Homo sapiens: one gene and its partners. The protein of the gene in region 6 purifies or fractionates together with the protein of the main gene of each other region. This does not show direct contact. Each region holds a gene or a part of one and is shown on either strand. Other genes may lie near its edges. The genes, in order: EPC1, MBTD1, PCNT, JAZF1, BRD8, ING5 and EPC2.

What was found.
Region 1: the proteins of ING5 (region 6) and EPC1 purify together in Homo sapiens (affinity purification with mass spectrometry; one large-scale study listed by BioGRID and IntAct). This does not show direct contact.
Region 2: the proteins of ING5 (region 6) and MBTD1 purify together in Homo sapiens (affinity purification with mass spectrometry; one large-scale study listed by BioGRID and IntAct). This does not show direct contact.
Region 3: the proteins of ING5 (region 6) and PCNT purify together in Homo sapiens (affinity purification with mass spectrometry; one large-scale study listed by BioGRID and IntAct). This does not show direct contact.
Region 4: the proteins of ING5 (region 6) and JAZF1 purify together in Homo sapiens (affinity purification with mass spectrometry; one large-scale study listed by BioGRID and IntAct). This does not show direct contact.
Region 5: the proteins of ING5 (region 6) and BRD8 purify together in Homo sapiens (affinity purification with mass spectrometry; one large-scale study listed by BioGRID and IntAct). This does not show direct contact.
Region 7: the proteins of ING5 (region 6) and EPC2 purify together in Homo sapiens (affinity purification with mass spectrometry; one large-scale study listed by BioGRID and IntAct). This does not show direct contact.

What each region holds. Positions count from the first base shown.
Region 1 is NC_000010.11:32,280,587-32,284,831, forward strand, and holds part of EPC1 (enhancer of polycomb homolog 1), read right to left. Parts: coding exon 4,112-4,245; coding exon of another isoform or gene 3,999-4,111; exon of another isoform or gene 3,535-3,998; intron 1-3,534. UniProt on the Homo sapiens protein: Component of the NuA4 histone acetyltransferase (HAT) complex, a multiprotein complex involved in transcriptional activation of select genes principally by acetylation of nucleosomal histones H4 and H2A.
Region 2 is NC_000017.11:51,190,361-51,194,605, forward strand, and holds part of MBTD1 (MBT domain-containing protein 1), read right to left. Parts: intron 3,151-4,245; coding exon 3,068-3,150; intron 2,657-3,067; coding exon 2,422-2,656; intron 1,921-2,421; coding exon 1,843-1,920; intron 1-1,842. UniProt on the Homo sapiens protein: Chromatin reader component of the NuA4 histone acetyltransferase complex, a multiprotein complex involved in transcriptional activation of select genes principally by acetylation of nucleosomal histones H4 and H2A.
Region 3 is NC_000021.9:46,428,632-46,432,876, reverse strand, and holds part of PCNT (pericentrin), read right to left. Parts: intron 2,868-4,245; coding exon 2,645-2,867; intron 2,371-2,644; coding exon 2,220-2,370; intron 1,349-2,219; coding exon 662-1,348; intron 1-661. UniProt on the Homo sapiens protein: Integral component of the filamentous matrix of the centrosome involved in the initial establishment of organized microtubule arrays in both mitosis and meiosis. Plays a role, together with DISC1, in the microtubule network formation.
Region 4 is NC_000007.14:27,829,749-27,832,853, reverse strand, and holds the end of JAZF1 (juxtaposed with another zinc finger protein 1), read left to right. Parts: coding exon 1-54; 3' UTR 55-2,277; downstream 2,278-3,105. UniProt on the Homo sapiens protein: Acts as a transcriptional corepressor of orphan nuclear receptor NR2C2. Inhibits expression of the gluconeogenesis enzyme PCK2 through inhibition of NR2C2 activity.
Region 5 is NC_000005.10:138,168,390-138,172,634, reverse strand, and holds part of BRD8 (bromodomain-containing protein 8), read left to right. Parts: intron 1-500; coding exon 501-570; intron 571-1,224; coding exon 1,225-1,274; intron 1,275-1,474; coding exon 1,475-1,597; intron 1,598-1,722; coding exon 1,723-1,803; intron 1,804-2,225; coding exon 2,226-2,290; intron 2,291-3,276; coding exon 3,277-3,413; intron 3,414-3,946; coding exon of another isoform or gene 3,947-4,165; intron 4,166-4,245. UniProt on the Homo sapiens protein: May act as a coactivator during transcriptional activation by hormone-activated nuclear receptors (NR). Isoform 2 stimulates transcriptional activation by AR/DHTR, ESR1/NR3A1, RXRA/NR2B1 and THRB/ERBA2.
Region 6 is NC_000002.12:241,708,206-241,712,450, reverse strand, and holds part of ING5 (inhibitor of growth protein 5), read right to left. Parts: intron 3,236-4,245; coding exon 3,069-3,235; intron 1,075-3,068; coding exon 963-1,074; intron 474-962; coding exon 380-473; intron 1-379. UniProt on the Homo sapiens protein: Component of the HBO1 complex, which specifically mediates acetylation of histone H3 at 'Lys-14' (H3K14ac) and, to a lower extent, acetylation of histone H4. Component of the MOZ/MORF complex which has a histone H3 acetyltransferase activity.
Region 7 is NC_000002.12:148,759,582-148,763,826, reverse strand, and holds part of EPC2 (enhancer of polycomb homolog 2), read right to left. Parts: intron 2,046-4,245; coding exon 1,897-2,045; intron 1,158-1,896; coding exon 1,025-1,157; intron 1-1,024. UniProt on the Homo sapiens protein: May play a role in transcription or DNA repair.

The DNA of each region.
Region 1 (4,245 bases), on a different chromosome or scaffold from region 6:
AAATTAGCCAGGCATGGTGGCGGGTGCCTGTAATCCTAGCTATTCAGGAGACTGAGGCAGAGAACTGCTTGAACCGGGGAGGTGGAGGTTGCAGTGAGCTGAGATCATGCCACTGCACTCCAGCCTGGGAGACAGAGCAAGACTCTGTCTCAAAAACATGACAAACATAAAAACAATGAATAATCAGAAATGGCTATACTATAACTCGCATATTTGGCTTAAGTAGCAGGAAAGCTTATCAGCTGACTTGTATTTTACAAAATAGTTAACTTCCAAACTCATAAACAACTTGGGCATCTCTAATATGAACGTCTGAAATCTGAAATGCTCCAAGAACCAAAACTTTTTCTGCATTGACCTGATACTACAAGTGGAAAATTCTACACCTGGCCTCATGTGATGGGGCCATAGTCAAAATGCAGTCAATACTTTGTTTCATGCATAATTTTTATTATTTATTTATTTTGAGATGGAGTCTTGCCCTGTCACCCAGGCTGGAGTGCAGTGGCGTGATGTTGGCTCACTGCAACGTCTGCCTCCTGGGTTCAAGTGGTTTTCCTGCCTCAGCCTCCCGAGTAGCAGGAATTACAGGCACCCACCACCACGTCTGGCTAATTTTTGTATTTTTAATAGAAACGTGTTTTGCCATGTTGGCCAGGCTGGTCTTGAACTCCTGATCTGAGGTGATCTCAGGCAATCTGCCTGCCTCGGCCTCCCAAAGTGCTGGGATTACAGGCATGACCCACTGTGCCTGGCCTGACTCTTCTGTTTTAATTAGCCCAACACTGCCAGTTTTTCTGCTGGCATCAGACTACATCAGAGTTTCTTTGGTTAAGTGCCAGAGGAAGTAGTCTGGTTTGTATGTGGGGGCCATGCTGTATGAAAATTAAAAATTATCTTTAAAATCACAATTACTACTGAATGAGGTAAGATGCTTAACCTATGAATAAAGTGGCAATGCGGGCACTCACGCCGTAAGAGGACCAACACATTCAACTTCCCCTACTCCAGGCTCACTCTGGAGAATATATTCTTTCAGTAAATTGTATTTAGAATTCTGTATAACATTTGAGCTGCTACATTTTCTCTTTTTTTTTTTTGAGATGGAGTCTCACTCTGTCGCCCAGGCTGGAATGCAATGGCACAATCTCGGCTCACTGCAACCTCTGACTCCCAGGTTCAAGCCATTCTCCCTGCCTCAGCTTCCTGAGTAGCTGGGATTACAGGCGCCTGCCATCATGCCCAGCTAATTTTTGTATTTTTTAGTAGAGACCAGGTTTCGCCATATTAGCCAGGCTAGTGTGGAACTCCTGACCTCAGGTGATCTGCCCGCCTCGGCCTCCCAAAGTACTGGGATTACAGGCATGAGCCACCACACTTGGCCTAAATTTTGTTTTTTTTTTCTTCAGGGGCCTGGAGTTGGATTAAGTGAAATGCACTTATGATATGGCTGCATTGTAATATACTTTATAAAGTATGCAGAGAAAAGCTTTAGGTCTCTGGAATATTCACAAATATAAATGAACAGTGTTACCCTACAGTAGTCTGTAGGTATCTATCCTCTAAGTATTAGAAGATCTAGCAAAATTTAAGGAGAAATTGAAAATAATTAAGACAACAGGAAAAAAAATAGATAAACTCATTTTTAAAAAGTAGTATTGAGGCTGGGTGCAGTGGCTCACCCCTGTAACCCTAGCACTTTGGGAGGCCAAGGCAGGAGGATCACTTGAGGCCAGGAGTTCAAGACTAGCCTGGGCAACATAGACCCTATCTCTTACAAAAAATTAGCCAGTCATGGTGGCATACGCCTGCAGTCCTAGCTACCCAGGAGGCTGAGGTTGGGGGATCACTGAGCCTGGGAAGTTGAGGCTGCAGTGAGCCATGACTGTGCCACTATACTCCAGTCTGGGTGACAGAGAAAGATCCTGTCTTAAATAAATAAATAAATAGTTGTATCGCATATATGGAGGAAAGAAATGATAAAGAAGAAAAATTACAAGGTTACTAATGATTTCTTTTCAGCTAAGCTTTTGGTAATGCTCATCTTTTAATGTTCTTTGGGCAAACACAAATCAAACAATTTTTACAACTGTTATTAATATGCCTAAAGCAGTATAGCAAAACATTTTTCATAAAAAAAGAGCATTATAAAATCCTTAAATATTTAGGATAGTTATACACTTCAACTTCTCTATTTAAGGGGTGGAGAAGATGGAGATTGATGGAACATGCCTATTTTCTGAGAAGTCTTAAAGAATTTTTACAGCTTAGAAAGCTTAATTATCAGGGTAACCTATGACAGGTTTATACTGTTAAAACCTCTATACTAACACTATAAGTAAGTCTTTATTGAAAAGTTCTTTATTTTGATTCTTAAGACTATAAAAGTAGAGAGAAACTGGCTTTTGGTGATAAAGACAGTAACATTAATGGGATTATAAATAAGCTGTTAGTCCCTAAAATAGCTTTATCTTCCAGCTGATTTCTGAATTGTGATTATTTTTCTCATGAGCTGAAAGACTTCCATTTCATAGAAGTACAGCTGACCCTTGAATAACATGGGTTTGAACTGCCTGGGTCTACTTATTTGTAAATTATCTTCTGCCTCTGTCACCTCTCAGATGACAAGACCAACCCCTCCTCCCCCTCAATGTGAAGATGACAAGGATAAAGACCTTTATGATGATCCACTTACACTTAATGATTAGTAAATGTATTTTCTCTCCTTTATGAATTTCTTTTTTTTTTGAAACAGGGTTTTGCTTTGCTGTGAAGCCTGGAATGCAGTGGCATGATCTTGGCTCACTGCAGCCTTGACCTTCTGGGCTCCTACCACCTCAGTCTCCTGAGTAGCTGAGACTACAGGCGCTCACCACCACACCCAGTGAATTTCTGCATTTTTTGTAGAGATGAGGTTTCACCATGTTGCCCAGGCTGGTCCTGAACTCCTGGGCTCAAGCAATCTGCCCACTTTAGCCTCCCAAAGTGCTGGGATTACAGGCATGAGCCACCATGCCTGGCTCTATAAATTTCTTAATAACATGTTCTTTTTCCTAGCTTATTTTAAGAATGAAGTACAGAATACATATAACATACAAAACATGTATGTTTGGACTGTTTATGTTAATGGACTAATGGACTGTTTATGTTATTGGTAATTCTGGTCAGGAGCAGACTATTAGTCAAGTTTTTGGGGAGTCAAAAGTTATACATGAATTTTGGACTGCAATTGGGGGGTGCCCCTAACCCTCATGTTGTTCAGGGGTCAACTGTACTTTTTTTTAACCACCAAGTAAATTAGTTTACGGAACATTTTCTGGAGGTCTTTAAGAATCAGAGCAAATGTTCATATTTATGAAGCAACTTAACTATAACCCTACAGGGTGAATTAGGGGAATGATAAATATCTTCATAGTCCTCAGATTACCTTTACAAAAATCAGTAGTAACATAATTCAATGGTGAATTTCTACAATATATAGGCTTCAAATAACACAAACTTATGCTTTAAAACAGACAGCTAAGATTATAGGAATATTTTAAATAAACAGCATTTATTTTAGACACATTTCAAATAGAAGCCACAATAATCAAATAGATATTATCTGAAAACGTTTCAAAAATATTAACCCTTTAAATGTTCTTCTCTGAAAAATTAGTTTATCTTTAACAAATTATTCTGAATTATTGTGTCAACATATAAGGTTATGCATATATATTCACTTGCTGGTCTCTATGTTAAAGCAAACTAGGTAAAAACTAGAGAAATATCTGAACATAAAATGGTTAACAATTTACGGCCCATTTTCTTCTCATATTATTGAAAAATATGATAAATCTTGTGGTTCACGGACTATATCCAGGAAACAAATGTCACATATTAAATAGAAATAAACCATCTTTGTATGCAGGTATGTTTAAATGAAGACACACACATACAAACTCCTATAGCAACAGGATTCAAATAAATACTTAGACCAAGATTTTTTTTTTAACTGTTTAAGAGAAAAGGACTTTAAGCCATAAATGTAACAGACCACATAGTCGAACAAATGGGAAATGGTTGGACCTGACATTTCTATAGAAACGTACATCATTAACAGTCAACATACCAAAGTGTGCTGAACCACTGCTACTTTTACTTTGCGTAGAGGTACTGCATGTCTGGGTCCCAGGTTGTGCTGTTCCTGTTCGGTTTATACTCCTATATAATTTTCTACAGGAGAGTTCATCATTGTCACTGTCA
Region 2 (4,245 bases), on a different chromosome or scaffold from region 6:
CAAAGTTGCTGGGATTAATTACAGGCATGAGCCACCGCGTCCAGTCCAATTTAAAAAATATCTTTAAATAAAAATTGGCCAGACTCAGAGGATCACACCTGTAATCCCAGCACTTTGGGAGACCAAGGCAGGCAGATGGATCGCTTGAGCCCAGGAGTTTGAGACCAGCCTGGGTAATATGGTGAGACACCATTTCTATAAAAATATAAAAACGAGTTGGGCATGGTGGTATACTCCTGTAGTCCCAGCTACTCCAGGGGCTGAGGTGGGAGAATTGCTTGTACCCGAGAAGTCGAGGCTGCAGTGAGCCAAGATCATACCACTGCATTCCAGTCTGGGCGACAGACTGAGACTCTGTCTCAAAAAAAAAAAAAAAAAAAAAAAAAAAAAATATATATATATATATATATAACCTTATCTAAGAATGAAATGAAATATGGCCATGTGTGGTGGCTCATGCCTGTAATCCCAGCACTTTGGGAGGCTGAGGTGGGCAGAGTGCTTGAGCCCAAAAGTTTGAGACCAGCCTGGGCAACGTGGCAAGACTCTGTCTCTACAAAAAAATACAAAACTTAGCTGGGTGTGTGGCAACACATGCCTGTGGTCCAAGCTACTCAGGAGGCTGGGGTGGGAGGACTGCTTGAGCCAGGGAAGGTTAAGGCTGTAGTGAGCGGAGATTGTGCCACTGCACTCCATTCCAGCCTGAGCAACAAAGTAAGGCCTTGTCTCAAAAAAGAATGAAACATTCTATGACAAGTTTTATGAAGAGAGAAAGCTATGGCTTTCTATGGTGGGGAAATAAGATAAAAAAAATCAAACATAGTTATCAATATATTTTATATTACTTTGGCTTATGCCAACAATTCACTGTAAGGTAAAATATAGTATAGAAAGAATTTCTTTTTTTTTTTTTTTTTCGAGATGGAGTTTTGCTCTTGTTGCCCAGGCTAGAGTGCAATGGCACGATCTCGGCTCACCTCAACCTCCGCCTCCTGGGTTCAAGCAATTCTCCTGCCTCAGCCTCCCAAGTAGCTGGGATTACAGGCGTGCACCACCACACCCGGCTAATTTTTTAGTATAGAAAGCATTTCTAGAAAAATTTGGTAAAGCTTGTTTGCCATCAACTTGGATTTCTTACCAGTATCACTCTAGAAAGTTTTGCTTTCTAGGAAAAATGGGTTTATTAGGCTTCACATCTACTGTAAGCATCAAGCATCTGCTAATTTTTTTTTTTTTTTTTGAGACAGAGTCTTGCTGTGTTGCCCAGCTGGAATGTAGTGGCGTGATCTTGGCTCACTGCAACCTCTGCCTCCTGGGTTCAAGTGATTCTCTTGCCTCAGCCTCCTGAGTAGCTGGGACTTCAGGCGTGTGCCACCACGCCCGGCAGATTTTTTGTATTTTTGGTGGAGACAGGGTTTCACCGTGTTAGCCAGGATGGTCTCGATCTCCTGACCTTGTGATCTGCCAGCCTCGGCCTCCTAAAGTGCTGGGATTACAGGCGTGAGCCACTGCACCTGGCTGCTAATTTTTCTTTTTAAATAAAGTTTTTAAAAAGGATTAACTTTCAGTAGGTTTTACATATTATTTCAAGAATCATTCACAGACTCTATTCTTTACCACGTATACTTTAAATACTGTGGTAATAATTTCTCCTGTTAGTAAAATATCAGTGTTTCTCATTATTGCAAGGGTTTGCCTTTTATGGCATACTGCACCTTTAAGCATAATACATAATGCACAATCATCAGTTCTCACAAGATATATCATTTTCTGTCCAAGAATACTGTGACTCCAATTAGTTAACAATTAGAAAATGTATGTGAACACCACGTGGTGACCCACTTTTCTTATGTCCTTTGTATTGCTGGGACTTAGCCTTTTTCTTCTGTTTTGATGAAGCTGATTGGTTTTCTCTTGATGCTGAAAAATAAAAAGGGAAAATTGGTACTAGATAATTGTTTACAATTTAGACGATACAGTTGTCTAGATACAACTTATATGAACTATCTTTACCAAGACCATTATACTTAAGTACATGATGCTCTGAAAATAAGGGTACTTGTTCCTACAAAACCATAGCCTCAACATGAGACATTTTCCACTATTTACTCAAAAGCATTTATTACCTACCAATAAACTTTTAGTATGTAATTTTTAACTCACTAAAATAGTAAGTCTAGTTTAATTTGGTGACTGTTGTGTTTCTATAGTCATTATGTAATTGACTATTGGATTCACATTGCCATGGGACACATGGTCTGATTCTGTGATATTGTTGTTGAGTCTTAATGTCTTACCTGGCAACCAATCAGACATAGGTATATTCTTGTCCTGTGAGCTCATAAGATGACTTATGTGAGATAGTCCTCTGGAGAATTGCTGATTTTTACAAAAGGACACCTTTTCTGTATACCAACTTACACTGTGATGCTGGAGGCTGTAGTTGATATCCAGTTAACTGACACCACCCTACAGGATAGAGGTCAGGTGACTCACAGTCTACCCACTGATCATACTCTTCTTCCCATCCATCAAAATGTATCCTCAAGAGACGATGAATAATTCGAGTTACTGTGGCTACACATATTAAACGTGGCTCCATGAGATCTACTGCTTCTAATTTCATTCCTACACGAAATCCGTGATTTGGAACATCCTGACACAGAGAAGAAAACATTAATATTGGTATGAAGAAGAAAGAATGCACAACCCTACTATCACTAAGAAAGCAAAAAACAGAAGCGACTAGCTAAATAACATAATTATAAACCATAAATTCCAAATAATTCTTTAACTATTTAAACATAGTACGAAGGTGAAGTATTTAAAAACTAGTTAGGAAAAATCTTCATTTCTATTTCCTTCAGATTAAAAACGAAACATAGTTTGGAAACAAGTTTTGATTCCTAGGTAAAGAAAATATTTATATTGTTTCATTGCTATATTTGTTTATATTATATCTCCACTAAGAAATTCTAATACAAGGCAAAGACATTTTTATGAACATAAATTGTATTTGTGGGGCATTAATAAGTCCTCACATAATTATGCTGCCATTTAAATTTACCTTATTAAATAGTTTTACTGGTGCTGCAATGGAGCCAGTTTCCCTGAGGTAGTCAAACCATTTAAAAGGAAGTTTTGTGTAACCTAAAAAACACAACTGGTTTAACTAGCAGTTCATTTAAAATTAGCATAATATTAAAATGCAGACAAAAAGTAACAGTACAAAAAATCTTAAGAGCATAGGTTATATGATCAACTTTATTTTTTTTGAGACAGGGTCTTGCTCTGTCGCCCAGGCTGGAGTGCAGTAGTGCCCTCAAAGGCTTACTGCAGCCTCAACCTCCAGGGCTCAAGTGATCCTCCTGCCTTAGCCTCTCTAGTAGCTGGGACTACAGGCACATGCCACTGTGACAGGCTAATTTTTTGTTGTTTTTAGTAGAGACAGGGTCTCCCTATGTTGCCCGGGTTGTTCTCAAACTCCTGGTCTCAAGCAATCCTCCTACCTGAGTCTCCCAAAGTGCTGGGATTATTGGCGTGAGCCACTGCACCTGGCCTATATGATTTATACTGCTGAGTGCAATAATTCCTCCATGTTACACAGATTTCCCTCCCCTCTCTAGAAACACTGGTGTGCCTACTTAGTCTAACGCAAAAGTGGCTCTCTTTTTCTGTTTACTACAATGGTACATTTTTGCTCTTTCAATCCTAGGCTTTAGAAGAGTCTAGCACCTAATACTATGGACTGATATTTTTCTTTCTTGCAAGGAAAGAAAACTGGCTGAGCAAATACTATTTTTTATAGACCTCTGTTATAGCTTTCCTCCTTTCTTAGAGGAACAACTTAATGCTCAAGTATTAAAATTGGAAAAATCACTGGTTAAACCACGAGTAAAACAGCCATCCTTTTAAAAGTCCACATAGGGCTGGGTGCAGTGGCTCACGCCTATAATCCCAGCATGCTGGGAGGCCAAGGTGGGTGGATCACTTGAGGCCAGGAGTTCGTGATGAGCCTGGCCTACATGGCGAAACCCTGTCTCTACTAAAAATAGAAAAATCAGCTGGGCGTGGTGGTGCACACCTGTAATTCCAGCTACTTGGGAGAGGAGGCACAAGAATCACTTGAACCTGGGAGGCGGAGGCTGTAAAGAGGTGAGATAGCACCCCTGCATTCCAGCCTGGGTGACAGAGCGAGACTGTCTCAAAAAAAAAAAAAAAAAAAAAAAAAAGTCCACATGGCTA
Region 3 (4,245 bases), on a different chromosome or scaffold from region 6:
GGCCCAGGCGGGCGGATCACCTGAGGTCAGAAGTTTGAGACCAGCCTGGCCAACATGGAAAACCCTGTCTCTACTAATCCAAAAATTAGCCAGGCGTGGTGGCATGTGCCTGCAGTCCCAGCTACGTGGGAGGCTGAGGCAGAAGAATTGCTTGAACCCAGGAGGCGGCGACTGCAGTGAGCTGAGATCACATCACTGCACTCCAGCCTGGGTGACAGAGCCAGACCCTATCTCAAAAAAATCCTAATTAAATGAAGAGACACATTCTGTAATCGTGGATCAAAAGACCTCACACTGTCCAGATGTCAATACTACCCAGAGCAATCAGCACATTTAATGCCATCCCTAAGAAAATCCCAGTGGCAGGTTCTGCAGAAATACAAACACCAATCCTCAAATTCCTGTGGAATAGCAAGAAGCCCCACAGAGCTGAAACTATCTTGAAGAGGAAGAACGAAGTTGGAGAACTCACACTTCCTGATTTCAATACTTTCTAGAAAGCTACAGTAACAGCAGTGTGGTGCCAGCGTCAGGGCACACAGACCAGAGCAGACCAGGTCAGAGGGCCAGACATAAATCTCGCGTCCCCCACGTGAACCATCCTAACTCCAATTGCTTATCGTTTTTAGGTGTGGACGCTCCGCCGGCAGGCGGCTCTCACCAGCTTCTCCTTGTCTCTCTGCCACTTCCTCCACTGCTCCGCAGCCGCTGGGCTCTGCCTGGCCTCCGCGCTCCTCCTCGCAGCCTTGCGTCCTTCTTGCTCTTTCAACCGTGGGTGTGACTGCTCTAATTCTGCCTGCAACCACGCTGGTTTCTCCCTCTCTCTCTCCAGAGAGCATCTCAGCTCTCGTTTTTGGGTGTGCAGGGCTTCCACCGTCGACTTCAGTGTGGCACTTACCTCCTTCTCTCTCCTGAGCGCCTCACAGTGCTTCTGAGCCTCAGCCTCAAGCTGCTGCTGAGAATGCAGGGCTTGCTGCTGCACCTTTTCAAGCATCGCTTGCAAGTCCACCACCCGGGACTTCTCCTCCTTCAGCTTCTGCAGCAGAGCGTGATGGGCCTGTGTGTCCTGGTGCACGCAAGCCTCCTGTGTCCTCTGGCTCAGCTGCTCGGTCAGGAGCCGCTCGTGCCGCAAGGCCTCTGACAGCTCCAGGGTGCGGCTCTTCTCAGCCGCAAGGTCCTTCTGGAGCTCAGAGAGCTGGCTCCGCTCCTGAGCCAGCAAGGCCTCGCAGCGTGAGTGCTCGATACGCAGCTCCTTCTGCAGGTTGTCCTTGGCCGTCTGCTCGTGTTTCAGTGCCACGCAGAGTCGACTGCTCTGAGCACGCTGTGTCTCCAAAGACGCCCGCAGCTCCTAGACAGCAAACACATACGATGGGAGACACTGAATCAAGAGGAAAAGTGTCTACATGGTTTTCCTGTCCACATTTGTTTATATACTTTAGCCCAGCAATTCTACCTTTTGAAATGCACCCTATTAGCCACATGTAGGGACAACATTTTTTTGTTAGTTCATCAAGTAACAAAAAACCCAGACTGCGGAGATGACATACTTTTTTCGGAAATGGTGTTGAGTCCTGGGTTCAGAGATGTTCCCAGTCTGTCCCTCTCCAGAAAATGATTCAGAGATGTCCCCTGCCCGCCCCCTCTCCAGAAAATCACTCCACCAGAGGCTCCTGCCCCCTCTTCAGAAAATCACTCCACCAGAGGCTCCTGCCCCCTCTTCAGAAAATCACTCCACCAGAGGCTCAGAGATACACACCCAGCTTGCTAGGAACCACCACTTCCATGCTGTTGAAAGCCATAACCCATGGAACTGGCACAGACTTGCTCAGAAGCCACAGCAGGCCTGCTGGGCCTCCGCCATGCAAAGCAGAGGCCCCACCACCAGCCTGCCTTGTGCACAGACCTCTGAGGCTGTGCTCTGTCTGGATGCCAGCGAGGAGGCTGTGTCCATCTCCACAGCAAGTGCTCAGGGACGGGGGGGGGCTCCGAGCAGGGGTATCGTGCCACCACGGGTCATCGCACTCTTCGCCCTGTGGTGGCTGCCACTACACCAAGGTGCAATTTTACCTGCAAACACAGCCCTATCCTGCTACGTCACACTGCTGTCAACTGGGTGCACTGCCATGAAGAACAGGAAAAGAAGGATGAAAGAGGAGCATGGCTTCAGGCTTCCAGTGCACACAGCCCATGCCGGCTGCCTTGCCCTGACACCCTGTTACCTCCAGGGCCTTGGCACTCTGGCTCTCCCTCTGCAGGTGCCGCAGCTGCTCCTCCTCCAGCTGGCTCTGCAGGGCACGCCCCTTCCCCTGCTCACTCTCCAGCTCCTGAAGCGCGGCCTTCAGCTCGTTCTCCTTACTGCTCAGCATGGATCTGCGTGGAGACATCGCAGAACAATCTGACCACGTGGGCCAGAGTGTGTTCCCGGGGGCTGGGAGCTCCAGGAGGGGAGGCAGAGCCCTGCCAGGTCCCACACGTGTGCTTCACCCCCCACCACAGGATTATCAACCCAGGGACAGCAGGGCGCGGTGCCCCTGGGGCTGCCCAACTGCGGCCCACCAGAGGTTCTGTCTCCCTTCATCACCAAGAAAACATGGCACAACGGGGGGACTCCCGCCAGTGTCCCAGGAAGGGGGATCAGGCGCACCTCAGCTGGAGGACCTCCTGCTGCACCTCGCAGAGGGACCGGGACAGCTGTTCGCTCTTCTGCCTGCTCTCACAGAGGTCGGACTTCAAATCTCGCACTACAGTCTGCTCCGCCGCCAGGAGCTTCTGCACGCTGTTTGCCTTCTCTTGCTCTTCACTCAGCGTCTTCTGCAAGTCACCAGCAATGCACTTCTCCTGCTCTACTTTATAAGCCAGCAGTTCAACTGAGAAAGACAAAAGAACAGTAACAGGCCCCCATGAGCTCCTCGTGCTGCACAAGTGACACCAGGTTAGAGACAGACTCGTGGGGGCGTGAGGTGTATGTGCTTCGGGAAGAAAGGAGGTTCTGTGGACTAGAAGCTTTCACTGCGGGTGGAACCAGGATGCTCAATTCTGCCCTCTGGGCCCATTTCCTTCCAGGGCCCACCCACCTGGCCGGGAGACACAGAGTCCAGGAGTGATATAGCCCTGGGGCCATCCTAAAAATGCCACCTCACCCCCACTCACACCCTAAACTGCCTCCAACAGAGGGAACTCCAGGCCCAGGTGGCTTTACTGGAAAATTCTCCCAAAACTTAAGGAAGAAATAACCCCAATTCTAGACAACGGAGGGCGGAGGGGCTACTTCCCAAATACTTCCCGCACCCCGTGGGGCTGGCGCTACCCAGCACCAAGACCAAAAAGGCACAACAGAAAACAGACCAGTGCCCCTCACGAGCACTCAGACAGCACCGGCCCACCACCCCCATGCCCCTCACGAGCGATCGCACAGTGCCGGCCCCCCTGTGCCCCTCACGAGCACGTGCACAGCGCCAGCCCCCCCATGCCCCTCACGAGCGCTCGCACAGCGCCGGCACCCCCTGCCCGTGCCCCTCACGAGCACGTGCACAGCGCCAGCCCCCCCATGCCTCTCACGAGCGCTCGCACAGCGCCGGCACCCCCCGCCCATGCCCCTGACAAGCGCTTGCACAGCGCCAGCCCCACCCATGCCCCTCACGAGCATGTGCACAGCGCCGGCCCCCAGCCCCAGAGAGCACAAAGGGCATGGGCGCCGGGACAAGGGCCGTGGGCTGAACTGCAAGGCCGTTCCCCTTGACGGAATCCAAAACTAGGAACAGAGGGCACTTGCCCAAGCTGACCAAGGGCGCCTGACCCCACATGCGATGGTACGAGACCAGCTCCTGCCCCCAAAACTAAGAGCAGGGAATGGCATCTGCCCACACAGCTGACGGCACAGCACGTGAGAGAACACGGGCAAGAAACAAAAAATCGTTACTTACCCACAGATGACCTGAGCATCTACATAAAAACTCCCGAAGAAGCTAAATTAAATGTAGAAACCTACGAGACATTCCTGAACTCTAGCATGAGCTCCCAAGAATCTGCCAGCACTCAGAGCCCAACCCAGGCCCCTCTTGCCCACATCAGGCCCAAGAGTGAGGCCTCCGTGCCAGCCCCACCCAGCGCTGCCTGTCTCCAGGGTCCTTTCTGCTCAGTCCTATCAGCTGACAACCATGGCAACACTCAGGGGCTTGACTAGATGATGCCCTGTCACCACCCTCTGCTCCCAAGGCCACACAGGTGAGTGTCGGGCGGGCAGGT
Region 4 (3,105 bases), on a different chromosome or scaffold from region 6:
ATCAATTTCCATCCCCCGGTGTCGGCTGAGATTATCAGGAAGATGCAGCAATAACATGCTGGTCATAACTGTGCCAAGAAATCCTCACCAGCAGTTGCTGATTTTGAAAACAGCCACCTTTTTTCAGGGGAAGCATTCAGCAACCCTTTAAAGAAAAAGAATTAAATGCATGCTTTAAATTTTTTCTGTAATTTTGGAATGATGTATCTTTGTAGAGTTAATGATTTTGTACATTTGCACATGTAATCATCATACCCATTTTCATTACTTTGATATAAGGTGCTAAACAAAAAAAGCTCTAGGTTCTTCAGCACATTTCCCCCAAAACAAAATAAAATTGAGGGCATGTTGCATATTGTTGAATTGTATTGCGGTGGTATCAACCTGGGGGGAGGAGGGGCTGGCACTGAGATTTTTTTTTCAAGATTGTAATGTGATTGAAGTTTTCAACACATCAACTCACATATGTTCAAAACCAAAATAATACCTTCATTATCAAACTGGTTACCATGCCTTACATAATGGAGTTAGTATTTGTGAGTAGAAAGACTTTAGGTAATGGAAATATAAATAAGAAAGAATGTTTAACATAATATGCTAAAAATATTTTCATATTTAAATAACATACGTAAAGGTGTGCTTTCTGTGTTTTATATTATCTTGCAAATCCTTTTGCCCTTTAAAAAGCTGAAAATCTTGCCATCTGACTTACTAGTCATTTTAGTGTTATAAATGGCATTTTGTACAAAATAGTCTATTCAGTTCGTTCATTCATTTAACACACATTGATTGAGTGCCTGCTGGGTACAAGGGATTCAATTTATGCCTATTGATATCTGCGGACCAAGATACCCATTTAGTGAAATACTTTTTTCCCTGAAATCTGTTAGAAAAGACTTTGAAATACTTCAGTGCAAAGTGTGTGTGTGTGAAGTTTAGTTATATCTTCATCTTCAGATGAAGTTTTAAAGCACTTTGTAGTTCTCTATTGCCAACAATTTAATGTTTATGTGTTGCCAATTCTTGCAACCACTGCCCTACCAAACCTGTGGGTTGCAAATCAGAACTAAAATTCTAAGCACGTTTCAAAGATGAACACTTTTGTTAAGACCCCTATTGCCTCTTCTTCATGCTCATTTTTTACTTTTTTTAAAAGGTACTTTTCTCATCACATTGTAGAGAGGTCTGCATTCTCATTGGAAATGTCTGTTTAGCTTTATAAAACAAACACTTTGCTGAAATAGGAAAATGAGCCTTATTGACAATTAAGTGCTTCTTGCAGCAGGTGGTCAAAGAAAAGCATGACTAATACGACCTATTAGAGTAATCTACATCTGGACCATTCCTTAAGTTTTTCCTCACCGACAGTACCATCATGCCTTGAGTGTTCTTTTCTCCCAAGTGCTATTCCTTAAACACGAGAGTTTACCAGTTGCCTAATAATGCAATAAAAAATGCTTTGAGATAGCTAACTGCCCATAAAACAAACTCAAATTGCTTATAAAGTTTCTTCCCATGTTCCCATTTGATGAAAAGTCTTACATCACATATAACTGGGAAGCAGGGGTCCCTCCTCAATTTTCAGACATTTTGAAAGGATGACAGTTCTGTTTGTTAGATGAGTAAACCTCTATATTCATAAGTTCTAAAATCCTTCATTATGAGGGATTCAAAGTATTTATAAAAACACTGCCCTCTAAAAATTTCCTCAGATCTGAAGTATGGTCTTGGTCCTGAATATACAGTGTTATCCTATGTTTAAAAGGGTGATCCAGACATGAGACGCAACTAGTTGGTGCATAAGAAGGCCCCACTTGGCTATTTCATATCTACCTACAATTGACCAAAAAAAATTTTTTAGGCCAGCAATTATTATTTAGCTTCGCTCTTTCTAGTGCAAGAAACTGCAGGCTGGATCAGTAGTTCAACAGCTAAACAGTCATAAAATAGTCATTGTGCATGTTAAATTTCTTTCAATGCTTTCAAAGATAAATTCCAATTTCTATTTACTTATTCATTGTGACAGTATTACTAAACAGGTAAGGATGGGAATATTTTGTTATACTGTGTATAGTGAATGTATTGTACTGTGTCTGTGAAAACTGTGCTTTAAATTATATTTTCATATGTTTTGTTGGGGACAGAGCACATTAAGTCTGAAAGCAACAGAGGTTTGTTTTAGAACTGAAGGCAATTTAATCAAAATTCCTGTCAAGAAAAGCTGCTTATAAATGTAAATGAAATCACATTTAAAATAAACTGCCTCTGACCCAAAAATAAATATGGCTCTTTATTTTCCTTAGTGTCCATTATGAAAACCAGTATCAAGTTTACCATGGAAATTAATATATCCATTCAGTTCCTCATTCTAAGGCTGTTCAGTTGATGCATGTAGACTTTATTCCCTTACATTTTTGCTTAGATTAGATTAGGCTGTATTACTTTTCTGTCAATAACAAATTAAGCTTGGACTTACTTACTTAAACTATTTTAAAATAAGTTCTAGGCTAGTAAGATGAACAGTGTCTACTACTATAATAAATATTCCAAGGATACTTTTGGATTAACATGGTCCATAATTATTAACTCCAACAAAAATGCTCCCATTGTTGAACATATTTTACCTAAGTATATAACCTATCTGGAAGCTGAAAGTCTCCAAAGCTATTGCTTCCTAGGACTGCTGTGTCCTAACAGCTGGCATATGAATGCCTCATACTGGTTTGCCCTAGACTCAAAAAACTTTTTAAAGGATTCTAACAATATACAAACTCTGCTTCCACAAACAAATACAAGTGACGACATGATATGCTGCAGTTCACATATAGCAACTCAAAATGCCACCAAGTCTAAATATTAGGTTAACATCTTCAATAGCTAGTTTGCTCAGAACAAATGTAAACTATTTTGATGATAACTACAAAAGCGGCAAAATCAAAAGTTGGTGCTTTAAATTATTCACACGCACATTATAAAAGGGAAAGGGAATACAATTCAGAAGTATTTTAAAGGCCCAAACCAAAAAAAGATGTTCAAGATGCTAGATTAATGAAAAACTTTCACAAATAAATTTGACAACAATGAAATTACAGATCTTGAAAAATG
Region 5 (4,245 bases), on a different chromosome or scaffold from region 6:
CTCCTGGGCTTGAGCTGTCCTCCCACCTCTGCCTCCCAGAGTGCTGGGATTACAGGCACGGTCCATTGCACACCTCGCATTCATTGGCTTTTTTTTTTTTTTTTTTTTTTTTTGAGATGGAGTCTCACTCTGTCCCCAGGCTGGAGTGCGGTGGTGAGATCTCGGCCCACTGTGACCTCCGCCTCCTGTGTTCAAGAGATTCTCCTGCCTCAGCCTCCCGAGTAGCTGGGACTACAGGTGCATGCCACCATGCCCAACTAATTTTTGTATTTTTAGTAGAGACGGGGTTTCACCATGTTGGCCAGGTTGGTATTGATCTCCTGACCTTGTGATCCACCCGTCTTGGCCTCCCAAAGTGCTGGGATTACAGGCGTGAGCCACCGCGCCTGGCCATTCGCATCTTTTTTATTCCAAAGTTTGAACTCCAAGCCTTGCACTCTCAGCATACCTCTCCTATTGTTTTCTGCTTGGTGTGTAATAAAGCTTTCCTCATTTTGTAGGGTATCAGTTAGCAGAGCAATCAAGCCCTTTGCAGAACCTGGCCGCCCTCCAGACTGGTTCTCTCAAAAAGTAAGTTCCCAAGCAAGGGCTCTTTTAGAGCAGTCTTTGGGTTGTAAAGTAGGTTCTCTACCAGGCCCTGACTTTTAGTTACAAAGCTTTTATACCATGATGTGGGAAAATAGTTGAGAATACCTTTTTCTTTTTCCTACTGTTTGCTAATCCATCCATGTATGATCATATTAGACCTTTCTTATTGGTGTTGCATAACAGTTAAGAGCCCAAGCTTGGGAATTAGATCTGGGTTCATTATTACTCCATCTAAAAACTTTGGGCCATGATCCTCTGTTTTTTCATTTGTAAAATAGAGATAAAAGAGTTGCTTCAGGATTGTTGTGAAGCTAATTGAAGTAATACATGTAAAACATTTAACACAGTGCCTTGCATGTAGTAACTACTTGGTAGATATTAGCTATAAATATTGGCAGTTAGGTTGCCTTTCCGCAAATGCACAAACTCCAGTCCATAAGACTGTCTTTTTCTGTGTCTTGTTTTGATTATTTTGAACTGATTTGATTATAAAGTTACTTGCCCTCCTAGTAAACCACTCCCGTCTTACATATAGTTCTCTTCTCTAAATCTTACTCTAATCTCTTGAAACTTTGAAAGGTCATTTCTTTCCAGCCTTGCTCATCACATTTTCACTTTTTTTTTTTTTTTTAATAGCATTGTGCTTCCCAGTACTCGGAGCTTTTAGAGACCACTGAGACACCAAAGTGAGTACAAAGCCAGGTACTTCAGCCATATTTCTTTAGTGGAGAGTATTTACTGAGGAATTCTGGTTTATACTTAGTTATGATACTGGATGATTAAAAAATAGCAGAAGTTATCTATGATTAAGTGGTAAAAGCAAGTAGGAGAGGGGATAAATGTTATGTTATTTGAATATGAATTTTTTTTTTTCAATTTTCCACAGACGGAAACGAGGTGAAAAGGGAGAAGTGGTGGAAACTGTTGAAGATGTTATTGTTCGGAAATTGACTGCTGAGCGAGTTGAAGAACTAAAGAAAGTGATAAAGGAAACCCAGGAGAGATATAGGTACTTATCAGAGAGAATGCCAAAAAATTGAGAAAGACATAAGGGACTGTCTTCTGGTACTGGTCAGAACTTTTAAAATAGCAGATTAAAAAACCCAGTCTACCTACCTCTCTTTCTTCCTATAGACGGCTAAAGAGAGATGCAGAACTAATTCAAGCTGGACACATGGACAGCAGACTGGATGAGCTTTGCAATGACATTGCAACGTGGGTTATATTATATTGTTCTTCTGTGCTTCTTTCTTTTTACCCTCTTTTCCCCTCAAGTAATCTGGCTTATTTCCTCCAATTGCCGTCCCTTTAGACTTGAGACAGATTCTGGAAGGGGAAAGCTGCAAAGTGGTTTGGTGGCTGGGAGGGGGGAGTGAGTCCTAGAAGGTAATATAATGGGACATTTCAGTATGAAAACATAACTTAGTTCTAACTTAAGAGTGGCTATAGTTTGCCTGGGTGAAGAACTGGGAGTTAGGCAGTATACCCCAATTCACTGTTTTGCTGGTTAGAATTCCTGTTTAGGCCTTTCTTCCAGAAAGTGCTGGCCTGGCAAAAAAAATTACTTTGTAAGGGTTCTGTGAACTCTGGGGAGGAGCCAGAGCTGTCTAGCATCTAACCCTTAATTCCCTGTTTAGGAAAAAGAAATTGGAAGAAGAGGAGGCTGAAGTAAAGAGGAAGGCTACAGATGCTGCATACCAGGGTAAGCTGAACCTAGTATGCCTCTTTAGCAATTGATTGCACAGTACTGCATGCTAATGACAGTTGGACTGTTTTGTAACATAGAATACATTGATTTAAATTTACTTGCAGTTTTCTCTTCTACCAGAATAAAAACATCCCTTAATGTCTTAAGAAGAAACTCCTAGAACATGCGTTGTGCTCAGATCTCACTAGACCTTAAATTAACTTCAGGACACAAAGGCTTGATGAGATATTGAACATAATGTTTTAGAAGTCAAGGGCCTGTGAAAAGATTGAGAATAGCTCAGTCATTAGATGAGGAGAAATTTAAGCATTTACAACTCTAGGAATACATGCTGTGCGCCAGTGAGGTCTTTCCCTGTTTTTGTTTTTTGTTTTTCCCCCAGGCGGAGTTTTGCTCTTGCTGCACAGGCTGGAGTGCAGTGGCGCGATCTTGGGTCACTGCAACCTCCGCCTCGCGGGTTCAAGTGATTCTCCTGCCTCAGCCTCCCGAGTAGCTGGCATTACAGGCGGCTGCCACCACACCTAGCTAATTTTTGTATTTTTAGTAGAGATGGGGTTTCGCAGGCTGGTCTCAAACTCCTGACCTCAGGTGATCCACCTGCCTTGGCCTCCCAAAGTGCTGGGATTACAGCCGTGAGCCACTGCACCTGGCCTTCCTGTTCTTAAAAGCAGAATATTAGTAAGTTGCTAAAGAGAATATTAAAGGATGTTTAAACTACTTTCCCACTCCAAGGACCTTTGGGATAATTAAGTAGTTTGAGATTGTTAAAGGAGTTTCTTAGTGTGAGAATTGCCCTTAGGAAAAATTAGGCTAAAAAGTTATCCATCTCTAGAAGTGTTAAAGCTTTCTAATCCAAACTTATTATGCTGCTTTAGTAATGCAACATACCTATTTGTCCTTTATTGTATAATAGCAGACTAGTGTCAAGTTTCATTTATTTAATCTTGAAGATTTGGACATTGTTCTCTTTTATGTTCTAGCTCGTCAAGCAGTAAAAACACCCCCCCGGAGGTTACCCACTGTGATGGTTCGCTCTCCTATAGATTCTGCCTCCCCAGGAGGTGATTATCCACTTGGGGACTTGACTCCAACCACTATGGAAGAGGCTACCTCTGGGGTGAGTATATTTCCATCTGTGGGAATTGATCAGTGAAGGGGCAATAAGCCGGCAGAGCTGAGCGATGAGGAAACCACTTTTGGCCTAGAGGCAACTTCCTCTCTTGATCTGAATGCTAAAGACTTAATTTACCATGTTCTGTGCTCTGAGATAAGAACGGACCTAAAAGCATTGAGGCTTTTGACCTTTTTGAGAGATAGGTAAAAAACTATTTTAAGAAATTGTTTCATACTAGTCTTATGAAATTCCTGCTGAAATAAGGGACAAAATCCTTGTAAATGTAATATTGGTAGTGGGTAAGGAGTTCATAAAAGGCAGGTTGGGTGGGATGGTTGAGTCACTGTGGGTTTGAGTGGATGAAAGAGAAGATTGTGGGGAAGAAAAGTATGGCTAAGAGCAGGAGGGATAGAGGGTTTCTGGGCAATTCCACTCAGGACTAATAAAATAATAGTTAGACACACTAACCCATACAGATTAGTAGGGAACCTTCCATAGTTTGAGAAGTCAGATAAAGGTTCTCTGTTGTCTCTTAGGTAACCCCCGGGACTTTGCCGAGTACCCCAGTCACCTCGTTTCCTGGGATTCCTGACACCCTTCCTCCAGGCTCTGCACCCTTAGAAGCCCCCATGACCCCAGTAACAGATGATTCACCCCAGAAAAAGATGCTTGGACAGAAAGCAACTCCACCCCCCTCCCCTCTGCTGTCAGAGCTCTTGAAGAAGGGCAGCCTCCTGCCTACTAGCCCCAGACTGGTATGGAGACTTCTGTGGGTGTTTGAGAGCTGTGGTGATTTAGTACTTGGAAGGGAGTGCCTGGGACCTAAAATGTGACA
Region 6 (4,245 bases):
TCTAGCTACTTAAAGAGTGGTCTACATTGGCCTCTGTCAACAACACGTTGCTCACCATCCTCCTGTCCCTAGTGGGGCAGCACACACTGTGGCTAAGAGGACAGGCACTGGAGTCAGACTCCAGGTGCAGCCCAGCCGCACCACAGCAGCCCTAAAGCCTGGGCAGGTCCCTGCGACACTGAAAATGCCCCTGACAACGGCACCCCCTCAAAGGCTGCGGTGAGGACAGGCTGACGACAGGCGCGCAGCGTAAGAATCAGAATACCACCCGGCACACGGGGTGCACTTCACTCGGGTCAGCTTCCATCAGTGTTCCTACATCCGGGATACAGGCTATGGGTATTCGTTCTTTTGGGAAAAAGAGGGGAAAGCCTCTTACCCTCCTTTGTGCTTCTTTTTCTTTGGTGTGTCTTCCTCTGATGTCCTCCTGCCTCGGCCCCGGGACCCTCTTTTTTCTTTCTGACCCCGGCCTTCTGAAAAATAATCAAGATGCAAATTATTTTTATAGAATTCTCTAAAGCAAGGCAAGTTTTGTGTTTTGTTTTTAAAAAGGGGTCTCGCTCTGTCTCCCAGGCTGGCTGGAGTGCAGCGGAGCAATCATAGCTCACCGCAGCCTTGACCTCCCGGGCTCAAGCAATCCACCCACCTCAGCCTCCCGAGTAGCTGGGACCACAGGTGTGCACCACCACACCTGGCTAATTTTTAAATTTTTTGTTGAGATGAGGTCTCGCTATGTTGCCCAGGTTGGTCTCAAACTCCTAGCCTCAAGTGATCCTCCTGCCTCAGCCTCCCAAAGTGCTGGGGTTACAGGCGTAAGCCACCACACCCAGCCTGCAAGACAAGGTTTACCCAAATATGATACTTACCCTAGTGATCATACTTTAATGATTTACCGTGACAAAACTCTTCAAAACTCCATAGTTAACAGTAATAAAATAAAGAAAAAAAATTAACAGACTTGCTTTTTAACCCTCGCCCTCCGGAGCTTTCAAAATCACTGCCCTCCATCTTGTCCTTCAGATCTGCTTCAAAGCGCGCCAGGTCTGCATCAAGCCTTCGAATGTGTTTATCCACCTACAAAAGGATACCCAAAGTCTTATTTTAAAGTAAAACCAAAACACCTCAGAATCACGAATGTACAAAAGTATCCACCAGGAAACACCTTCTTGCCCTTTAATTGAGTCTCCAATGAACAAACCTCTGCTAAAACAAGGCCCACTATTTCAAAGTCCATGCAAGGGTCTTGTGCTTTTTCTGCATATTTTGACATTGCAATGGAATAAATCCCATTTAGGGAAAAGACATGAGTGTGGGCAATAATGAGAAGCAGAGTTGTGAAATGCAGTGAACAAGGCCTGGGATATCTGACGCTGAACCCTACTTTAAAATATGGCTACCTGGAGGCCAGGTGCAGCGGCTCACACCTGTAATCCCAGCACTTTGGGAGGTCGAGGCAGTCTGATCACCTGAGGTCAGGAGTTCAAAACCAGCCTGACCAACATGGTAAAATCCCATCTCTAAAATAAATACAAAAATTAGGGCAGGCGCGGTGGCTCACGCCTGTAGTCCCAGCACTCTGGGAGACCGAGGCAGGTGGATCATTTGAGGTCAGGAATTCAAGACCAGCCTGGCCAACATGGCAAAACCCCATCTCTATTAAAAATACAGGCCAGGCACGGTGGCTCATACCTGTAATCCCAGCACTTTGGGAGGCTGAGGCAGGTCAATCACCTGAGGTCGGGAGTTCAGGACCAGCCTGACCAACATGGAGCAACCCCATCTCTACCAAAAATACAAAATTAGCCGGGCTTGGTGGCGCATGCCTGTAATCCCAGCTACTCAGGAGGCTGAAGCCGGAGAATCGCTTGAACCCAGGAGGCAGAGGTTGCAGTGAGCCAAGATCGTGGCATTGCACTCCAGCCTGAGCAACAAGAGCGAAGCTCTGTCTCAAAAAAAAAAACCAAAAACCAAAAACAAAAATTAGCCTGTTGGTAGTGGTGCACACCTGTAATCCCAGCTACTTAGGAGGCTGAGGCAGGAGAATCGCTTGAGCCTGGGAAGTGGAGGTTGCACTGAACTGCAGCCATGCCACTGCACCCTAGTCTGGGCGACACAGTGAGGCCCTGTCTCAAAAACTAAATAAATAATACAAAAATAAAAAAATAAAACTACAAAAATTAGCCAGGCTTCGTGGTGGGTGACTGTAATCCTAGCTACTCAGGAGGCTGAGGCAGGAGAATTGCTTGAACCTGCGAGGCACAGGTTGCAGTGAGCCGAGATAGCACCATTGCACTCCAGCCTGGGCAACAAGAGCAAAAGTCCATCTCAAAAATAATAATAATAATAAAGTATGGCTACTGCATGCCTGTAATCTCAGCTACTCGGGAGACTGAGGCAGGAGAATCGCTTAAACCCAGGAGGTGGAGGTTGCAGTGAGCCGTGATCACACCACTGCACTCCAGCCTGGGCGACAGAGCAAGACTCTGTCTCAAAAATAAATAAATAAATAAAATAAATAAATAAAATAAAATATGGCCACCTGGAGGTCGGGCACGGTGGCTCATGCCTGTAATCTCAGTATTTTGGGAGGCTGAGGCGAGTGGATCACTTGAAGTCAGGAGTTCGAGACCAGCATGGCCAACAGGGTGAAACCCCGTCTCTTCTAAAAATATAAAAATTAGCTGGGTGTGGTGCTGCATGCCTGTAATCACAGCTACTAGGGAGGCTAAGGCACAAGAATCACTTGAGCCTAGGAGGCGGAGGTTGCACTGAGCTGAAATCACACCACTGTACTCCACCGTGGACGACAAAGTGAGACTGTCTCAAAAAAAACCCAAATGGTTCCTCCGAGCAGATACACAAACAAAAAGGGCCCAGAAAAAAAAAAAAAAAAAACAGGGATGGTCCTACATGAAGTGTATTCCGTCTGCACTTCCTCCAGCAGCGTCAGCTACCAAAGCCAGCCTTCCACTTGGCTATGCCCATTTCCGGGCAGTTTTTACATTTTGTTGCATGAGAGGCAGGAGTAGAGGTCAGAGGAAGAGCCATGGCCCCCGCCCCGCCCTCACCATCTCGTAGGTCTGCATGGCCAGCTGCACTTTGTCGTCACTGTATTCCTTGCACTTGCTGTAGGCGTTCTGGATCTTCTGCAGGCGCTCCACGCGCTGGTCTGGAGACAGCGTCTTCACCGTGGAGATGTACTCTGCAGCCAGGATGTCAATCTCTGCTTTCTTATCTGATGGAGAAATGGGGGAAAAGCTAGCCCTGCACAAGACACCATGATGTGCTCACCAGACTGGCAACAACTAAAGTCAGCCAACGCCAAGTTGTGGCAAAGATGTAGGCTGACATGAACTCACGCTGTGCTGGTGGGAGCGCAAGTGGGCAGAACCGTTCTGCACAAACAGTCTGGGATCGTGTGAATGTGCAGACTTTACGGCAACGTGCCCAGGACAGTCCCAGCTCTGAATGTTACACAGCAAGTGGTCACAGTGCCTTCTTCGACTCTCAAACATCCTGTATGAATAACTTGTAGCCACCTTTCCTATGACCTGGCATACTACTCTTTTTTCCCTTTTCTTTTTTTCCGGTAGAGCAGTCAAGAAAGAACACACTACTCTTAAATACCCTAAACAAACCTTATGTCACCTAAAGAAATCCACACGGGAAACATTCATAAGAGCAGAAAACAGAAAACAACCCCAATGTCCAATCCTCAGTAAAATGGAGAAATAAGCTGTGGTCCCTTCAGACAACAGAGTGCTACTCAGCAACAAAAAGAGCAAACTACAGCCACACACAGCAACACGGATGATTCCCAGAGAAGGTGACACGGAGCAAAAAGAGCAAGAAACAAAAGAAAACATACTGGATGATTCCATTAATATGAAGAGCAGAAACAGACACAACTCTTAACCCTTCAGTTTAGAGGGGTAAGAAAACTAGGCCAGGCGTGGTGGCTCACGCCTGTAATCCCAGCACTTTTGGAGGCCGAGGCGGGCAGATCACGAGGTCAGGAGATCGAGACCATCCTGGCTAACTTGATGAAACCCCGTCTCTACTAAAAATACAAAAAATTAGCCGGGCGTGGTGGCGGGTGCCTATAGTCCCAGCTACTCGGGAGGCTGAGGCAGGAGAATGGCGTGAACCCAGGAGGCGGGGCTTGAAGAAAGCCAAGATAGCGCCACTGCAGTCCGGCCTGGGCGAAAGAGTGAGACTCCATCTCAAAAAAAAAAAACAAAAGAA
Region 7 (4,245 bases), about 93 Mb from region 6:
TAGGAAAAGCATTGATTGACACAAAATGGATTTTTAAAAATAACTTACAAAATGACATTTGCACTGATAACTTTTTCGGCTATAGAGACAAGCGAGATTTAGAGAGAATCAGGATGGTGGGCTAGACGCCTGTGATTAATAAGAAAGAACTTTAGTGTTTTAATTGACATGAGCTGAATGAAGGAGTCTTCCTGCTCCACACTCTTTCTTGACCTTTAAGAATGAACCCATGAAAAATGAGAACTGTGTACATTTTTAAAAGATGAATTTTCCACAAACACCCTAGGTCATTTAAAAAATTTTGCTACAGAGTAAAGCTCTATTGTCTAGAAGCTTCAGTCAATATCTGTTTCCTATTTAAATCTATGCTCCTTAAAATTAAAGGCTTTATTAGTTTTCATATTTCCCAATTAAATACTTTAATTAATGTACCAAGTGAGGACCAAATAAATATAGTTATCTAGTCCAAGTGACTAAAATAACCACTGAGTCTGGCTCTTTCATTAGGAAGAAACTGTGACCCAGAAATTACAGGACTTTCTCAAAGTCACTCAAGGTAGATAACAATTGATAAATGCTGGCTCTGGAAATGATGATGACAATAATAATTTTCAATAGTCTCAATGAAGAAAGCTTTGAGGTGTTGATTCCTTCCATTACAATGCAAGGTTTGCTAAGGCTAGTGATAATAACTAGACTTTAATTACCTTTATTCCCTAGGGAGGCAGATAGCATATTGAACATGACGGACTATTAGACCTGAACTGAAACCTTGAATCTGCCACTTACTAGCTATTATATAGAAGTCACACAGATGCAACAACTATCTCTAAGGGTTGTTATGAGGATTAATTGGTCAGTATGTATATAAATACTCCTAGCAAAGTGCTTGGCTCATGGTAAGAACTAAAGTCACGTTAATTACTTTTTCTTTACTCAAACCATATTAAGACAACTGCAGAAATCAATAACTCCTCTGATCAACATTACCATCCATACATGCTTCTTCCCAGACAATATTCACCTTAGTTTTACATTCTTGAACTTTGTGATGATTTCCATTATGAAGAGTTGCTGGAGTGGCATATAACTCTTTTTCTGATCTACTGATTTTTACTTCATTAAGGATTTCACCACCATAGTCTCCCAAATGGTATCTTGAAAAGGTAACAAAAATATAAGAAAACATTGCATAGTTTGACAATAAAGAAGGAAAATAAGTGATACCTCAATTAATTGGAAGTCACCTAGTCAAAAAGGGCTAACAATCAAATTACTTTTAAAAGATAAAATTTGCAGGAATAAAGAAACAGGGATTTGGTAAAAACAAAACAAACCAAAAAACTAAAAAAGGCCTAAGGTACACAGCAAACAAATTTCTTACATATATTATATAATCAAGCACTAGGAAATGTTTAGAATGCTTACTCCAGGAATCATACAAAATTCTGTTTTTGTTTAGTCTATTTAATTTTGTAGGAAAATATACTATATTAGAGCACACATTTCTAAAAGGAGTTGAAACGAAAAATGTCTACCTACTCAGAAAATAAAATCAATACTTATTTCCCTCAGATTTAATAGAAAATTTAATACAGAGAAGTAAACAATATGATCACTAGAGTTCTTTACTAAATAAAATTCAATGATTCTGCCAAAACAAAATTAAGTATAGGATCTACAGTATACACAAAACTCTCCCAAAATCTGCAATCCAAATTGATAACTTAATCTATAAAAACTAGTAACCACAAATCTTTAAAAAATATAAATTCTTACAGAATCAATATCAACTGTCATAAAGCTTAACCTGTTCCCCCCTAAAAATCTTTTGGTTCATTTTGCCCATCATTTGGTAAAGTTGTCATTTTACTGTTGTAACAGGAGCAATGTTACCTTTTCTCCACAACTTCTAAGGTTAAGTGCAATAATTCTCGTTTTGTTTTCTCTCTTCTCTTAATCATTTCCAAAATTGTTATGGCTCTACTAAATTCTCGTCTCAGTTTCAACATCTTTTCATAAGAGGCTTCATCATTCTTACGATTCTATTAAAAATAATAATTTTAGAAGAATAAACAACACAGTTATCTACATTTCCGGCTTTATTCAATAAACTCTTATCAGACCTGAATTTATCCTATAAAAGTAAAATGTTAAAAAAAATCTGAACAGCAACCTATGTAAGATAACCTATAACTATTTAACTCTGAAAATATAAGTACAAGCAAGTATCTCTCGACACTCAGAAAAAAAATGTTGCCAGCTGTTGAAAAGGTAGAATGGCATAAAGAGATAATTTCAATGTAAACAAACAAAAAATGTCCACCTGAAACAAAATCTGTTATCAGAAAATGTAGTCCATTCAGCGTGTAGGAAAGTATTTTCCAATGACAGAGAGGAACAGTTCTGTCCAGATCAAGGTAACAGTCAAAATGAGTCCCCTCATCCATTCATCCATCCATCTCCAGCTCTGTAACTGGGGGCTGGATGGTTTGATACACTGTACTATTATGTGAACATGAACAATGACCAGTAAAGCTTCACTTCAGAAACTCAGAAAACTGAAAGTAGGATAACAACCATTTCAAGAAATCGGACTGTCAATTTTCAATGTAAATGTAACACTCCACTGCTGAGTAGAAAAGAGATTTAGCAAAAATACTGAATTTCAGAACACTGTTTATTAGCTTTTCAACTAATTATTATACAAAGTGAAAGCCCTGCTACATAACTAGAAAAGGCTCAGTTGTAATTAGTAGCATCTATTTGCATATAAAATTATTACTAATATAAACTATTTTGTTAAACATCCACAGATTCCTCACTTTACTATTAGGCATGGAACTATTTGTTTAAAAATAGACCACTACCACCTCTCCAATCTATGCATCCAGAGTGAACTGTACTTAAGCAATCATTCATGCCTTGATTTAATAATCTGAAATGACATTAGAAAGAACCTAAGGAATACCAAAGGTTTCATATTGGAGGATTATAAAAGAGAAAAATAACAATTGAGAAAAAGTCAAAGTTATACTCTTTTTCTTTTGTGTATAGTTTCCTGCATTTGAAAAATAATAGTCATATATTAAAAATAACCTACACTAAGTCCCATTATGGTATTCCACATCGAATATTAAAAATAAGTCATCCTTTTGTGTAATTTTAAAAAATTCATCTTTTTCTTCTTCATTACTATGACAAAAGGTAAATCTAAAGCATATGTTTAAGCATTTTTTTAAACAGGCAGCAATAATACCTTTCAATTAAAAAAATTAATATTTTCGACAGCAACTATTAAAGTGCCTACACTGTGCAGGGTATTGCACATGTCCCTTACCCTCAAAAGGCTTAGAATCTAGTAAGGATGACAGACAGAAAACAGATATACAGAATTGTAAGGCAGATAATAATATGAGGTTACATGCCAGCTGGCAGCTGAATAATATTCAAAAGTGCACCAGAACCTTTTAGATGGCTCCCCTGTTCAGTAAGTGTTCCTCTTGGAGGTTCTACCCTGTCTTATTCATATCTTGTTTTGCTTTTGTGTGTGTGTGTTTGTGTGTATGTGAGACAGAGTCTCACTCTGTTGCCCAGGCTGGAGTGCAGTGGTGTGATCTCAGCTCACTGCAACCTCTGCCTCCCAGGTTCAAGCGATTCTCCTGCCTCAGCCTCCCTCCTCCCTCAGCCTCAGTAGCTGGGATTACACGAATCCACCATCACACCCAGCTATTTTTTGTATTTTTAGAAGAGATGGGATTTCACCATGTTGAGCAGGCTGGTCTCAAACTCCTGACCTCAAATGATCTGCCCACCTTGGCCTCCCAAAGTCCTGGGATTACAGGCATGAGCCACTGCCCCCAGCCTCTGTTCTCTTTATGCCCAAATAATTATCGTTCCTAACTTTCCTTTCCCCAGTCTTGTCCTTTTTTTAAAAAACAAATAAAAAACAAAAACAAAACCTTTTTGTTTTGAAATAGTTTCAGTCTTACAAGAAAGTTACAAAAACAGTATAAAGAATTCTCATATATCTTCATCCAGATTCTCTAAAGGTTAATGTTTTACATTTGCTTTATCTCTCTGTATGTGTATACATATATGTATGTATGAATATAAACACACACATCTATAAATTATCAGCAGTACTATTTTTGAAAAATTTCAAGAGAAGTTGAAGATATAAAATGCCCCTTTATCCCTATATACTTTAATATATATTTTCAAAAAAAAATGATATTCACATAG